2 separate regions of the Homo sapiens genome follow, and region 2 is linked to region 1. Evidence: fine-mapped expression QTL. Tissue or cell type: thyroid. Region 1 holds a variant in brackets; the other region holds the start of a gene. All regions are shown on one strand. Distances are between the middles of the regions.

Evidence for each region. PIP is the estimated chance that this variant, and not a neighbour inherited with it, causes the effect.
Region 2: it holds the start of MDFI, and the variant in region 1 is fine-mapped to the expression of MDFI in thyroid (GTEx, PIP 0.92).

Annotation. Positions count from the first base shown.
Region 1 is chr6:41,612,160-41,620,345 of GRCh38, forward strand. No RefSeq gene overlaps it. Among named protein-coding and RNA genes, the nearest start is that of MIR4641, 18 kb to the left of the region's middle. The variant C/CAG (reference allele first, on the strand shown) is at 3,416.
Region 2 is chr6:41,633,761-41,641,931 of GRCh38, forward strand. It overlaps MDFI (MyoD family inhibitor), which reads left to right and starts at 4,708. Exons shown (of 5, transcript NM_005586.4): 1 at 4,708-4,892; 2 at 4,979-5,065. The coding sequence starts at 4,990. RefSeq lists enhancers at 486-986, 987-1,487, 6,781-7,361.

The DNA of each region.
Region 1 (8,186 bases):
CTCCGCTTCCTGGGTTCAAGCGATTCTCCTGCCTCAGCCTCCCAAGTAGCTGGGATTACAGGCATGCACCACCGCGCCCAGCTGATGTTTGTATTTTTGGTAGAGACGGGGTTTCACCATGTTGGTCAGGCTGGTCTCAAACTCCTGACCTCAGGTGATCCACCTGCCTCGGCCTGCCAAAGTGCTGGGATTACAGGCGTGAGCCACCATGCTCTGACAAGCCTATTTTTTTTTAAAAGAAAAAAAGAAAAATCAGGCAAACTGGTTGAAAGTCAGTTTAGGGAGTAGTGAGTCCTCCAGACCCCCTACCCCACTCTGCCACTCCGTACAGGCAGGCCTCTTCTCCTCCCCATACCATGGCAGATGATGGGAGATGAATATTCTGGAGGGGTAGAGGGTCTTTGGGCTGGGAGATACTGATGTGGTTGAAGCAGGGACACTCCAGGGGGATTGAGAGCCATAGACATCAAGGGTTCCCAAAGGTCAGGTCAGCAAGGCCCACTCGCAGACACAGAGCTTTTAGAATCCTATTCTTCAATAAAAATGCAAGGACCAACAGAGATATGAGTAGAACACCTAATATGAAAAACAGAAATAAAAACAGACAAAAAGCAACACAGAGGATATTACTAAGCAGATAGAGGAAAACTTAAAAATCACTTATTCTTAAGGAGATGTGATATCGCATTCATGAAATAAGATGAAGTTACAAAAATGAACATTCCAAGAACAAAATGAGGTCTTAGAAATTAAAAATATGGGCCGGGCGCGGTGGCTCACGCCTGTAATCCCAGCACTTTGGGAGGCCGAGGCGGGTGGATCATGAGGTCAGGAGATCGAGACCTTCCTGGCTAACAAGGTGAAACCCCGTCTCTACTAAAAATACAAAAAATTAGCCGGGCGCGGTGGCGGGCGCCTGTAGTCCCAGCTACTCGGGAGGCTGAGGCAGGAGAATGGCGTGAACCCGGGAAGCGGAGCTTGCAGTGAGCCGAGATTGCGCCACTGCAGTCCGCAGTCCGACCTGGGCGACAGAGCGAGACTCCGTCTCAAAAAAAAAAAAAAAAAAAAAAAAAGAAATTAAAAATATGATAGCAGAAATGAAAACTACAGCAGGAAGGCTGGAAGTCAAAGAGATTTTCCACAAAGTACAGCAAATAAAACAGCAGCAAACGGAAACAGAAGAGAAAAAATAAAATTAGAGGACCAGTTCAGGAGGTCCAACATCTAAATAATAGGAGGCCTATAAAGAGAGAATCAGGAAAGAGAAAACTCCTAAGTAACTTAAAACCATGCCCCAGAATTGATCAACATGAGTTTCTATCTTGTCTAACTGAATGGGTCAAAGTGTGTGTAAAAATGTACCTTCACCAAAGCACATCATCAAGGAATTCAGAACATGGCAGACAAGAGACGATCCTACAAACACCTGGAGCACATTAAAAACAGTATTGGAATGTACAACACTGTCATAGAAAATAATGGAACATTGCCTTTGAAGCTCTAAGAGAAAATTGTTTCCAAGCTAAAATGCCATGCTCTGCCAAACTATTAATTAAGTGCAGGATAAAAACATGTTGAGACATGCAAATTCCCAAAATGCAGCTCCACTCACCACTTCTCACAATAGGGGGGTGAAGGATGTGTTCCACCAAAAACAAGAAAAGGGAAGCAGAGGATGGGCATAAGGAAGAGGTTAGAGGACCCCAACCCGGGAGGAAAGAGCTACGAGGCCAGAACAAAGAAGGCAAAGGCTCTGGAAGGGAGTTCCCGCAGAAGATGAAACTCACAGAATGCCTGACATGTGAACACACTGGTGAGATCTAGTGTACTATGGGGACGATTTGGGGTTGAATCCCTAATATGATAATAAAGAGAACTAAGCAAAATGTTGAAGGAAAAGTAATAATAACATACTATGTGGTTTAGCTGTACATGACAGTTAGTCTTAATAATGAAAACACAGAATCCTAATTTAACCAAAAGGATGGTGTAACCGTATTGGGAGTAGGGGAGACAGGCAGGGATTGCTGGGGGAAGGTTACAAGGGGGTGAGCGGGTGAAAGGGATTGAATCCACGTCTCATGGAGTGTGGGCTTAATGAGTACCTGAAACTGAAAAATCAAAAAGTAGCAATGCAAGTCTCTTTTCAACCCATATGATGCTGAAAATCAAAAGAATCCTCTAGAAGAACTGAAAGTGGCTGTGTCTAGGGAGCAGGCAGGAGAGGCAGGGGCAGTCAGGATGCTCCTGCCTTTCTTAGTAAGCTCAGTGGAACCAACTGATGATGCTCTCAACCCGGTCCGGAGCTCTCTGGGTTGTCATTCCGTGCTTACTCATCTGTGTGTCCTCCAGAAGGTGAGAGCCACTAGGACAGGGACCAGACCCCTTCATCCTGTGGCCCACCACCTAGCCCAGAACCTGGCGGACTGCAATTACACATTTGTGGAATGAATCATTGCAGGTTCAAGCTAGAAGAGAACTTTCATTGCAACCCTATCATTTTACAGGTTAGAAAACTGAGGCCCACAGAGTAGAAATGACATGTTCCCCAATGCTCAGGTGGTGAGTTAGACAAGCAGCTCTCTTGGGGAGAGGACTTAAAGAGAGAGAACAGAGAGAACAAGAGGAGGGAAGATGAAGCCATCCAGAAGGAGGAGGTATTAGAGAGGCTCAGGTGGCTCCTAACGGAATTGTGTAACATCGCCCAAGCCTCTCAAGAGAACAGCATTCCACAGAAGAGGAGGTAGCCACCTGGGGCCCACCAGGGGACTCCTCCCTCTGAGGCCCCACTGGAGCTAAAAGTTTAAGAACACACCCCATGGCTGCAATCCAGGGCTCAGGAAGCTGCTACTGCTGCCCCAAACCCTCCTGTCAACACCCAGCAAACTCCAGAATGGATCCTGGAATGTTGTTGCAGAAACACTTCACATCTCCACCACCTCACCTGGGAACAAAAGCTGCGAAAGGGGCAAGAAAGTGGCCTCTGCTTTGCTTCTGCCTTCCAAACACCACCAAAGGTATGACATTATCTACCTAAATCCTTATGGAAAGGAAGTTTTGAACAATGCTGCTTTCAGTGTTCCAACATTTCCGGGGAAGTATGGACCAGAGATTGAACGACACTTCAGATTCTACCACACCCTCTGTTGTATTCATGCCTTCCCTTCCATCTGAACCTCTGTCCCAGGCAACTGCTCCAGAAACTTCCCTTTTCTTCTGAGGCCTCCGAAGGAATGCCCGCCAGCACACTGGTAAATTCATGCAAAAAGATGCCCAGAGGGGCCCCTAGTCAACCAGTTCTGCATATAGCTCAACTCGGAGTCCCAGTGTGGCTTAGCGAGGACACCCTGCTTGACTTGCTTGGGGACATATTAGCATGCTGAACAGTCAAACTTATCCCTCCCCTCTCACCCAC[C/CAG]AGAGAGCGTCCAGCTAATCCAGAGGGAGGAGGGATTTCAGGGTCAGCTTGGTGACCCAAGAAGCATGTTGGGCGGGATGCCTGAGTCTGAGACAGAAAAGGCTGAGGGGAGCCGAGAGTTCAAGAGAAAGGAAGCAGATGACGCTTTCCCCAAAGGGAGTCTGACGTGATCCCTCAGCTCATGGAATCCAGCGGTTACCCTTCTGAGCCTTGGTTTTCTCATCTGTAAAGTGGAGCTGGAGATAACACTCTCATAACACAAATAAATGATAAATGATTGAGATGATGGATATGCTAATTATTCTGATTTGATCACTACACATCATATGCATGTATCAAAATATCACTCTGTATCCAGTAAATATGTACAATTATTACATGTCAACTAAAATTTAAAAACTACAACAAAGAAATGTTTATTTGTGCAGTTTCTACGCCAAAAACTCCTCAAACTTCAAACAAGAACGTGACCAATTTTATATGATCATATCAAACAGTCTCCCTTATTTTTAGAGCAGAATGAGTCAATGGATTTAATTTAGCAAATGGCCGGGGCGGGGGATGTTTAAAATAATTTTATTATAAAATTTTCATATTAAAAAAAGATAACACTCTCATAGGAATGTTGTGGGGAACATTGTGTTGTAAAAAAATAACACTTGGAAAGCTCTACAAAGTGCAAAAATCACTTTCAAATGTGGTGACTTAAAACAGCAGCTAGAGCCGACCTGTCCGGGAGGTGAGGGGCGCCTCTGCCCGGCCGCCCCTACCGGGAAGTGAGGAGCCCCTCTGCCCAGCCAGCCGCCTCGTCCGGGAAGGAGGTGGGGGGGTCAGCCCCGGCCAGCCGCCCCGTCTGGGAGGGAGGTGGGGGGGTCAGCCCCCGGCCCGGCCAGCCGCCCCGTCCGGGAGGTGAGGGGCGCCTCTGCCCGGCCGCCCCTACTGGGAAGTGAGGAGCCCCTCTGCCCGGCCAGCCGCCCCGTCCGGGAGGGAGGTGGGGGGGACAGCCCCCCGCCCGGCCAGCCGCCCCACCCGGGGAGGTGAGGGGCGCCTCTGCCCGGCCGCCCCTACTGGGAAGTGAGGAGCCCCTCTGCCCGGCCACCACCCCGTCTGGGAGGTGTACCCAGCAGCTCATTGAGAACGGGCCATGATGACAATGGCGGTTTTGTGGAGTAGAAAGGGGGGAAAGGTGGGGAAAAGATTGAGAAATCGGATGGTTGCCGTGTCTGTGTAGAGAGAGGTAGACATGGGAGACTTTTCATTTTGCTCTGTACTAAGAAAAATTCTTATCCTGTTGATCTGTGACCTTAACCCCAACCCTGTGCTCTCTGAAACATGTGCTGTGTCCACTCAGGGTTAAATGGATTAAGGGCGGTGCAAGATGTGCTTTGTTAAACAGATGCTTGAAGGCAGCATGCTCGTCAAGAGTCATCACCACTCCCTAATCTCAAGTACCCAGGGACACAAACACTGCGGAAGGCTGCAGGGTCCTCTGCCTAGGAAAACCAGAGACCTTTGTTCACTTGTTTATCTGCTGACCTTCCCTCCACTATTGTCCTATGACCCTGCCAAATCCCCCTCTGCGAGAAACACCCAAGAATGAACAATAAAAAAAAAAAAAAAAAATTCAGGCCAGGTGCAGTGGCTCATGCCTGTAATCCCAGCACTTTGGAGGACTGAGGTGGGCAGATCACCTGAGGTCAGGAGTTCGAGACCAGCCTGGCCAACATGGTGAAACCCTGTCTTTACTAAAAATACAAAAAAAATTGGCTGAGTATGGCGCACACCTATATTCCCAGCTACTCAGGAGGCTGAAGCACGAGAATTGCTTGAAGCTGGGAGGTGGAGGTTGCAGTGAGCTAAGATCACCCCACTGCACTCCAGCCTGGGTGACAGAGTGAGGTTCCATCTCTAAATAAATAAATAAATAAAATAAAAATTTCAGCCCAATATATTAGGAACCCCATTTTAAATGCCACTGTAAACACAATTTATTTTATATCAACTTTAAATATGAAAGCTACACTCAAGTAAACCAAACAGCATATTACCTATGAATCTTTACATGTTCATTTAAAAATTTCAGCCCAATATATTAGGAACCCCATTTAAAATGCCATTGTAGTAAATGACAAGTTAGTAGAAAAAAAAAAAAACAGCAGCTAGGCTGGGCGTGGTGGCTCACGCTTGTAATCCCAGCACTTTGGGAGGACAAGTTGAGAGGATCACCTGAGGCCAGGAGTTCGAGACCAGCCTGGCCAACATGATGAAACCCCGTCTCTACTAAAAATACAAAAATTAGCCGGGCGTGGTGGCGGGTGCCTGTAATCCCAGCTACTCAGTAGGCTGAAGCAGGAGAATCCCTTGAACCCGGGAGGCGGAGGCTGCAGTAAGCCGAGATAGCGCCACTGCACTCCAGCCTGGATGACAGAGCGAGACTCCATCTAAAAAAACAAAAACAAAAACAAAAAAACAGCAGCTACCCATTATGTTTTGGCTGGCATTGCTCATTTGTTTGCATTCAGCTGGCCATTCAGCTGGGGTGGCTGGAAGGGGTGGAGGCTGGCTGACCTTCTTTCTCGAGCAGGGTGGACTGACTTCTTGTATGGTGGCCCAAGGCTCCAAGAGAATACAGGCAGAAGCAGCCAGGCCTCTTAAAGCCCAGGCTGGAACTGACACTGCAACACTTTTGGTGCGTTCTGTTGGTCAAAGCCAGTTCCAAGGCCAGCCCAGAATCAAGGGGAGGGGAAACAGCCTCTACCTCCTGGTAGGAGGAGTGACACGACCTAGGGAGAGGAGAAATTGTGGCTGTCTTTGAAAACAGCATACCCGGCATGTAAGTTTGGACAAGTGGTGGAAGCCTGGCTTGCCCAACTGGACTAGCACCCTCTCCCAGACTTTCCCAGACCACGCTGACTGTACCACTGGGGTCCTGAAGATGATTTGGTGGACCTTGGGAAGCAGCAAATTTGCATTTTGAATTCTCTTTCAATTCTTCTGACACCATCAAAGAGAATCATCTCAGCCTAGTGCAGCCTATCTGCAACGGCTCTCAAGCACCAGTGAATCGCTGGGTCAGAATTTAGCAGCATCTGGCAGCAAAAGTATTAAAATGTAGCACCTTGCTTTGTTTCCCCAGCATGCATTTTTAAGATTGCCAAGTGACACTGGCTTTCCATTCCTGAAGGCAGTAGGGAGTTAGCTAAATAAAGAGAGCCACTTCAACACAGGCATCAGAGCCCAAGGGCTGCTCAGCTCCAGGCTACAAGCTGTCTTCTGATAACACCCCTTTGTCCCCAGAGAAATAGTCAATACCCGCAGACCTCACACCCTTAATCTGTCCTCTTTACCACCCTCACCCATCAAACATTTCCTCCTCAATATTAAATTCCAGCCCCACAGAGCTTTTGTGGCATATTTGCAAGCCTCTTCCAGAAACTTCTCCATGCTGTACTCTCCCCAAACACTCTCCCCACTCTCTCTTCCCATGGAGGGTGGTGCAGTGGGTCCTGGGGCCAGAACACATGGGTAAAGTCCTGGGTCTATCACCTGCCGGGCACACCCCACCCCTCACATTTGCAGCCCAGGGCAAGAGTGCAAAGGAGCCTCCCAAAGGAGGCGTCTTGATAGTTAAGGGTTACAAATAAAGCTGTCCACCCATTACATAAACTATGTCCCAGCTTCCTAGCTGGCAAACATATCTTCCTAGTAACCAAAAAATACGTGTGTGTGTGCACATGCACCTGCAGAGCTAGGTTTTCATATGATAAAAGATAGCAAAATATAACAGTAATTGAATTTATTTATTTATTTATTTATTTATTTATTTATTTATTTATTTATTTATCGAGACAGGGTCTCACTCTGTTGTGCCAGGCTGGAGTACAGTGGTGTGATCTCAGCTCACTGCAACCTCTGCCTCCCCGGTTCAAGAGATTCTCGTGCCTCAGCCTCCCAAGTAGCTGGGACTATAGGCATGTGCCCCAACACCTGGCTAATTTTTGTATTTTTAACAGAGATGGGATTTTATCATGTTGGCCAGGCTGGTCTCAAACACCTGGCCTCAAGTGATCTTCCTGCCTTGGTCTCCCAAAGTGCTGGGATTACAGGTATAAGCCACGGCTCCGAGACTAAAATCACCGAATTTAATTAATACTGCATGTCTGTGGGTCCTCTTGTTGGGCTGTCAATGTTTGGATGAAAAATCAATAAAACATCTGTGATTCATGAGGTATAATATTGTCTTCTGTAACATTTCTTTTTCATGCTTTCATTTCAGTAAAATCAGGTATGTTTTTATAATCAAGATTTTCACGTAATTTATTAATAGTAATAATATAAAGATTAAAAATAAAATAATTGTGTTCAAAATATACATTTAAATGTATTATTATGAATGCATTTAAAGTAAATGTAATAAAATCAAAAATTAGAATCATTTACTTTAAAATATAAATTTTTTATTTTAAAATATTCAGCATTATCTATTACAATTGAAAAGGAAAAAATACAAATTATAATTGGTGAATACCAGTTAATTATTTGTCTGTACATGAATATCACACTGTAATTTTATGGTAAGTCTTGAAATCAGTTAGTGTTAGTCCTCCTATATATATTTAATAGAAACAGGGCCTCACTATGTTGCCTTATCTCAAAGTCCTGGGTTCAAGTGATCCTCCCACCTCCACCTTCCGAAGTGCTGGGATTAGCATCAGCCACCGTGCCCAGCCCATTTTTGAAAGGTGTTTTCACTGAGTATAGAAACCTAGCT
Region 2 (8,171 bases), 22 kb after region 1:
GTTTGTAAATAAAACTTAGTATAACAGAAATGTTGCCCTTTGAAGCTTCCCTCCCCTGGGGAGGGACGTGGTGGGCAAGAGTTCCCATTTGCTGACAGCCAACGCCTTTGCCACGTTTAAACAGGAGAACTAAAGGCTTGGAGAGTTCAAGTGATTTGCTCAAAATCACATAGGGTGGTAGAAGTGATTGAGCCAGGATGCAAATTTGGTCTCCATGACACAGATCCAAGCCCCATTCTTCCTATATACCCTGCCAAGTTCCTGGTACCCCAACACAATGAGACAGAGGAGGGATGCAGAGGGCCATGTCCCTATCTTCAGCAACTAGCTTGGGGAGGGGGGCAGCACATGAAAGAGAACATCACAGTCCTTTCTACACGCTGAAGGCCATGCCTGGGATTGGGGTGAGTGCTGTGTTTGGCTTCAGAAAACATGGTCCAAGTCCCAGCTCCACCCATTACTAGTGGGTAAGTCTCTTCACATCACTTCATTGTACCTCAGTTGCCTCATCTGTAAAATGGGGTTAATAACTATGCTGACTGTTGTAGGCATTAAAGGAAATAACAAATCTAGAAGTATCTGGCAAAGGCTCGTCATATAGAACACGCTCAACACATGACCGCTGAAATTGACACGCCACCGTCATCCTCCATCACCAGGGGTAGCAGGGAGGGCTAGAATCAGGCATGGGGCCCAGAGCACCCTTCATCCTACTGCACATTCTTTTCTTCAGGAAGGGGGAGGGTTAGAGCCCCATTCTCTGCTCAGTGCCCATCCGAGATGGGGGTAGAAAGAAAGAGCTGGGGGCTCTCAATCCCCACCCAGCAGCTTCTCCTCACCCCACACAAACACGCCCCAATTTATGCATCCCTCTTCCGGGAGGGTCCCATTCTCCCAGTGTCCTGACCCCATTCTCCAGGCACTGAGACCACAGTTGTGGTCCAGCTGCAGAAGCCAGCCCAGCAGACTGGCCCTCTGCCAGAGACAGGAAGTGGGGGAAGAGCTGTGCGTTCTGCTGGCCACCAAGGAGGGGTGGGCGCCAGAGGCTGGAGCTGGGCCAGACCTTGTGGTCTTGCGGAATGAACTGCAAGGGAGGAGTTGTGAGCTGGCCTGCTCCACTTTGAAGGGTATTGTGAGGGGCAGAGCCCGTGCAAGGCAGTTCTGTCCCCTTTGTTGCCTGGAAGGCTCTGGGGTGGAGAGTGGGGAATAAGCCCTGGAAGGCAGGAAAGAATACTGAGGTGGGAGTCTGGAAAGTTGGGATTTGGTAAGGTTTTGCCACTAACTCACTACATGACTTGCATTAGCTCTTTCCCCTCTCTGGCCTCTGTTTTCCAACCTCTGAAATTGGAAAATGTATTGCACTCTCTGTGGCAGACACATCTCTAGGGAATACACTAGTAGACAAGCCAGTCCCTGCTCTCAGGGCCTTTCACTCTACCAACAGATGAGCAAATATAGAATAGGCCAAGTGCTGAAAAAGTCTGGGTAGAATAATAAAATGGTGTTGGGGGCAGAGAGTGAGAAGTCTGGGACGGCCTCTCTTAGAAGCTGACATAAGCAGAAGAAACGAGGAAAGGGCCAATGTGGGTATCTAGGGGATGCACATTCTGGGCAGAGGAAAGAGCAAGGGCAAAGGCCCTGAGGCGAGAAGGTGCCTGGCAAATTAACCGAGAAAAGGAAGTAGCATGGCTGGCAGGGAATAAGTAAGGGGAGATGAGGGCCAAGGCAGGTGGGGCCCAGTTCATGGAGACTGAGGGACTTTGCGCTTTATTCTGAACTGATCGGTGGGCCCCGGGGAAGCTGGGCCTGGGCTTGGGTGCAGAGCCCACTTGGTGCTGTGCATATGTGTGTGTGTGACAGTGTTGGGTGGGGGAACACCTTTGATCTCCCCTCATTTACCCTGGCTTCCTGGACAGGTCCTTCAGGAAGAGACAATAACAGGGCCGGGTCTAGGGTGAGGCATGTGAAACCTGGAGTGAATGAGGCACTTGGCTCAGGTTCAAAACTTAAGGGGGCATCAAAAAACTCAGTAATTAAGATAAAACAATATTTTCCTGCAATATGTATAAAAATCCAAATTAATGCCAAAAAGTCTATGATAAACAAAATGCCAACATTTTAGATAAAGACAGGATCTGACCCTGAACTTGCGTGATTAATTACCTTAATCCTGGTCCTGTTTCCAATACAACTTTATTTAAAAAAAACAAGGCAGCTGGCCCAAAGAACTGTAGTTTGCCCATTTGGTATATTAAAATATTGCCTTAAAATATTCCTCATCAGTCTGGGCACGGTGGCTCATGCCTGTAATCTCAGCACTTTGAGAGGCCAAGGCAGGCAGATCACTTGAGGTCAGGAGTTCCAGACCAGCCTGGCCAACACGGTAAAACCCCGTCTCTACTAAAAAAAATTAGCCAGGTGTGGTGGCAAGCACCTGTAGTCCCAGCTGCTTTAACTTGGGAAGTGGAGATTGTAATGAGCTGAGATCTCACCACCACACTCCAGCCTGGCGGACAGAGCAAAATCCTGCCTCCAAAAAAAAAATTCCTTATCTTGGCATCCCCGAAATCTTGCACACCAGGTGAGTGTCTCACTTACCTCACCCCAGTCCTGGTCCTGGGCCCCAGTGCTCATCCCTCCTGAGGCTGAGAGGCAAAGGGATTTCCCCAAAGAAATATAGTAGATGGTGGGTCTGGAAACTGGGCTCCCATGCCAGGCCTCCAGCCTGGCCATCATATCCTATCATGCTCTGAACTGGAATGTTGATTTTAATGTGTTGATTTTTAAAAACTTTTTATTCAAGTATAATAGTCATACAAACAAGTGCCTGCATCATAAATGTTCAGCTTGCTGCATCCTTACAAAATGAGCACACCTGTATAACCAGCATGCGTGATTAAATTTAAAGCATAATTTACATTTCCAACAAAACAGACATTAGTACTGGGCCAGATTCAGAGGACTTTTGAGATCAAGCAGGCGACTTGGAATAGTAAGGCTCCGGGACTGAGCTGATGCAGAGTTTAGGGGCCCTGGATTGAGACGAGAAAGCAGGGGGAGGGGTGCAGCACTGAGGTCTGGGGTTCGGGAGGGGGCCCTATACGCGGGAGGAAACGGAGAGAGACGGTGAGGATTGCCTTCGGAGGTGGGTGAGGCCCAGCGTGCGCGCCCAGGTAAGCAGGTAAGAATGCAGCAGCCGCCAGGCCCAGGCGCGGGCGCGTCCCGTCCGGGTGACTCAGCCCGTGCCAGGAAGCGGGAGTTGGCTCAGCTCTCCAGAGCTCCCGGACAGCAGCCGGATCCCGGCCGGCTCCTGGGGCACTAGGACAGACCCCCGCGGCTAGCAGCCCGGCCTGGGGGGCGGAACACTCTCTTCTTGTCCCGCCCCACCTTCCTCCGGGCCGCAACCACCCCAGCCCATCGCTGGGACGTGGCCGCGGGTGCCGAGAGCGCTGCCGGCGCCGTGGGGGCCATCCCGGTCCTGGCCCCGACGGCGCCCCAGGACCTGCGATAGCCGTAAGTAGCGACTATGGGGGCTAGGAGAGTCCAAGAAGTGGGGAGCTGGGACGCCCGGCCTCCTGCGTCCCAGCTCTCCACTTCCAGACCCGGCTGGACTCGGGACTAGAAAAGGTGGCCTGGTGCCGCCGCTGCCTTCCAGTGTGCTCACTGGCCCTCGTGGCGGGGAGCCCAGACGCGGCTCCTAGGCGGCCCTAGACAAGTACGGCCGAGACGCTGTCACCCCAGGGGGCTGCCCCACCTGAGCATCATCCCACGGGCCCGCCCAGCCCCACCTGGAGAGCCGCAGGCTCCAAAGTCTTCCCCATTCTCGGGGACCAGGTTCCGGGGTCGCGCTGAGGGCCCCTGAACCCTCTTGGACTGCCTGGCAGCGGCTTCTTCCTACCACCACGGCTCACCATCCAGACGCGCCGCCCGGCTGGCCCCACCGGGAGAGGCTCCCTCCCTCCCCTTTCTCCCCGAACCCTCATCTTAGAAGCCCTCGGATTCAGTCTGGATCCCAAAGAAGGGCTGAATTCGGAGGACCTCTCTTTGCCCCCAAAGTCGGTTTTCTGACACACATTCCCACGCACAGCTGGTAGGGGCAGGAGGGTCGAGGATGCTCTGGGCTGCTGCGGCACAGGGCAGGCTGGTTGGTCACTAACCGGATTTCCCGGACAGACAACTCTGGCGCTGTGGGCGGGTGGCCTGGGAGCCCAGATCCCTGTCCCTGGCTTAGGACCCCGGGAGGAGACCGAGGGGGTGGGTAAAACGTGACTGAGAAACTTGATCGCGCCCATCTTTGGGGCAAAGAGATTTGGAGGCCGCAATTATTCAGACAGTTCCACGAAGTGGTTGAGGTTTCTCTCTTTCTCCTGATTTTCCAGAAACTTTTGCAGAGTTTGGACAGGCAAAGGAAAACGTGCAGCCCGCGGATCTCCGGGCCTCAGAGAGCAGGGAGTCGGGGAGACTGAGGCCCCGCTCCGAGAGCGCGGAGGAAGCGCGCCCAGCCGGCTTCCTGTGGGGGCTCGGGCCTCGGGCGCCCCGCGGACAGACGTGTCCGGCTCCTGGCTGGGCCAAGCCCGGCGCGGGGGAGGGGACCCGCAGAGGGGCGACTGAGAAGGCGAGGAGGGGGCGGGGAGAGGGTGGGCCAGGGAAGAGGGGAGGGGAGAGGCGAGTAGGGGAGGAGCGAGGGGGGCTGGAGGGAGAGAAGGAAGAAGGAAGGGGCGAACGGCGTGAGCTGGCGCCGAAATGGGAGAAAGCAGCGAGTGAGAGGGGAAGGGGCGCCAGGCGAGCACCCGGGAGCCAGCGGGACCTGGGCAGGGGCGCCCGGAGCAGGCGCGCATGGCGGGCCCCGCGCGGGGATCCGGCTGGAAGAGAGCGTAGCACGGCTCGCACGAGTGAGTGGACGTGGGAGGCGCGCATCTGCGGGGGAATCGCCCCTTGCCCGCCTCCGGCGCCGCCCGCTGAGCCCTGTTTTCCGCAGGTCCGGGGCCGATGTACCAGGTGAGCGGCCAGCGCCCCTCTGGCTGCGACGCGCCCTATGGAGCCCCCAGCGCAGCCCCGGGCCCAGGTAGGACCGGGAGTGGCGAGCGAAGCTGGACAGGGGCGGGTGGGCGGCTGAAGGGGCCAGTTATTAGTTCTCCTCTCCGTCCCCAGACGCGGGGAGACCGTTCCAGGGAGCTTGGTGGGGGTAGGGACGAAAAGTCTGGGTTTGAGGACTTGGTCCAAGGAGAGTAGGGGGCTGGGCGAGGGAGGCAGGGCCCTGAACAGAGGCTGCGGCTGCGCCAAGTTGGCTCCAACTCCCCGCAACTCCCGACACCAGACACACACACACACACACACAAACACACACACATACACTCCGCGGTGTCTGTCCGTCTGGGATTTGTGTCTCAACTGTTTCTGCCCAGTGTGTAAATATTTGTGGGGGCCTGGTGTGGGGGAGGGGGCGTTGTCTGAATCTTTCTCTACTTCCCTTCCCCCAGCCCAACCAGAGCCCAGCGCTTCCCGAAAACTTTTGTCTGCCGCGAGCGGCTGCAGGACCCAGCCCCTCCCCTCTTTCTTGCCATCCCTTCTCCCTCGCCTTCCTTCCCTCTCGTGCCGGCCAGTCCCCGCCGCCCCTGCCCTGTGCACACACACGCACCCCAACCCAGTGTCTTCAGCCCAAGTGAAATGCCCCGTCCCGCGCCTGGCGCCGTCTGTAACCTACCCGCGATTCCTGGGGGAGCCTCTCACGCCAAGTACGGTTTGTGACTCCCTGAAGGGGTTTGGAGTAGGGGCCTCGCCGGCCCTGGTTCTCAGTCCCTTCCCCTCACTGGCCAGATGCCTAAGCCGAAGCTCCCAAATGGAAGTCCGGGTCAAGGAGAAGTCAGGAACCTCTGGGATGTGTTCAGGGCCAGGGGAACCGCGTGCAGGAGTGTGGACCCGGATTTCATAATTGGAATCTCCACTGTCTAAGTCGTTGCCTTCCTCCCCACCAGCGCCATTCCCCCTTTCCCCTCTTTGACTCTGAATAATGAAGGTCTGTTCCTGAACCTCTGACACGAACTCCCTGCCTTGCCTTGGACAAGCTCCTTCCCTTCTCTGGCCTGAGCCTCCACATGCGCCCTCGAAGCCGGCCTGCCTGCCTGTTCTAGGAGGCCCCTCTCCACTCCCCACCTACTTGGTATGGACGCCTAGTTGTGGAGGTGGGGGGTCCTCTAAACCAGAGTGAGGACAAGTGGAAGATGTCTGGCCAACAGCCAGCACATAGATGAGGCCAGTGTGTCTACAGCCCATCTTGGCCAAGCCTCAAATTGCCTGCTGTCTCTGTGGGGCCCCTGCAACGGGGCCTTCTGCAGGATGAGCGCCTCCAAGAATTGGACTCCTTCAGCCCGGAGGGACAGCTGGGGGCAGGGCACTTGGAAGGGTCCTTCTCTGTGTCTGGGAACCTTCCCTGTCCCGCTGGGCCTCCTTCCTGCCTCCTCCCTTCCTCAGCCTCCTGCTCTCCCATCCTCTTACTCTCTCCAGCTTTCTCCCTCCCCTTATCCATTTTCTCTGCTCTCCCTCCACTACCTCCTTCCAAGATCCCCTTCCTTGTTGAAGCCATTCTCAGCTCCAGCAGCAAGAGGAGAGGGCTAACTGCACACAACCGGGGCCAGCGTGGGCAACTGGGAGGGTTAAGCTCTGGGCTGTAACTTGAGGCCCCCCAGCACCCCAGCAGACCCCCTCCCCAGCCTGGGCTGGGCCAGACAATGCGGCTTTCATAACTCAAGGCTTCGCTCTGCCACCGCCTTGGGAGAATGAGCCTGCTGCCCAGGAAGCCCAAACCGCAGGAGACCCAGCCAAAACCCCACAGATGCCTGAATTTGAGACCAGAATCCCCCACGCTTTACTCCCTGAGTGCTGACAGAACAGCAAGGCCACAGCGCTGCCCCAGGGGCTCTGCTGGCAGGACAGCCAGGGAGCAAGTCGGCCTCCTCCCTCAGCCACCCCAGATGCAGACAGGGCACAAGGGGACTCAGGGCAGATCTGGTAGGGGCAGGTGGCCAAGCCCCCACACCCTTGGCTCTCCTAGTGGCCTCCTCCCCACCCACCCCTGAGAGCCCCGGGAGCCTGGCTCCCTAGCCCACAGGCACATTTTTGCCCAGCATTGGGGCGTCACATTCCTGTTCATGGTTCTAAATTGAATTTCCTGGGGATTTGGAACCTTCAGACCTAAAATAAAACCAACTTGTCCCAGACTAACTGGCCAGCTCAGGCCCTCTTTAGTTTTCAGCTTGGTGGCCTGGGAGTGTGACCATTGGATTCGCATCAACCATGTGTGCATCAAAGGAGTCCACCCTCTCTGACTTTCTTGGGGTTCAGGTCCAGGTGCCACCCCTAGTCTTCATTTCTTTCTCTTTCTCCTTCCCCTGACAGGGGCATTCCAAACTCCAGAAAGTACTCCCCAGTAGGCATTTGCCGAGTGCCCCCTGGGGATGCAGAGATGAATATGGACACCACTCCAAGGGAGTGAGTTGGGAGGGCTGTAGTCTGGTTGAGAAGCCGGGATTTCACTAGCAAATTGTAATTAACAAGAGGGAACACTGGAGCTAAATTCTTAGCAACTGGGTCAGAGAAAGCTGTCTAGAGGAAGAGGTGAAGTTTGAGCTTGGTCCAGGATGAGTTGGGTTTGGAGAGTGGGAGGGGTAGGATCTTCTGGTCAACAGGAATAATATAAGCATGGGTGGACTGGTCAGAAGATCCGGCAATGGCCCAGACCATGGGGAGGCCGGTCTGCGTGGAACACAGGATCCTGGTACATTGATAGATTGAAGGTCCGGACTGAGGCCTTGAATGCCAAGCCAAGGAAAGATTGAGGTGTGGGGTTCCAGCCACCACTCTCTGACCATATGAGGTTCTGGCCTTCCCTCTCCAGAGACGGTCAGAGTTCCAAGTGGGAAGCCCAGATCCACGGTCCACAAAGACAATGACGAGGGCTAAACTTAAGGCAGTAGGCCGTGGAGCTCTGGAACACAGGCCTCTCTCCACACCAGCCAGGGATTTTTTGGCTGAAACTCCCATGGGCACTGTGCAGGCTTGAAACCATCCCACCGGAAAGAGGTTCCCCCCTACTCCCTGTTGGTCCAGGACCACCCCTCAACTTGGTGGATGGCAAGCAGAGAGAACCCACAGAGTCCTTGCTGAGGGTGTGA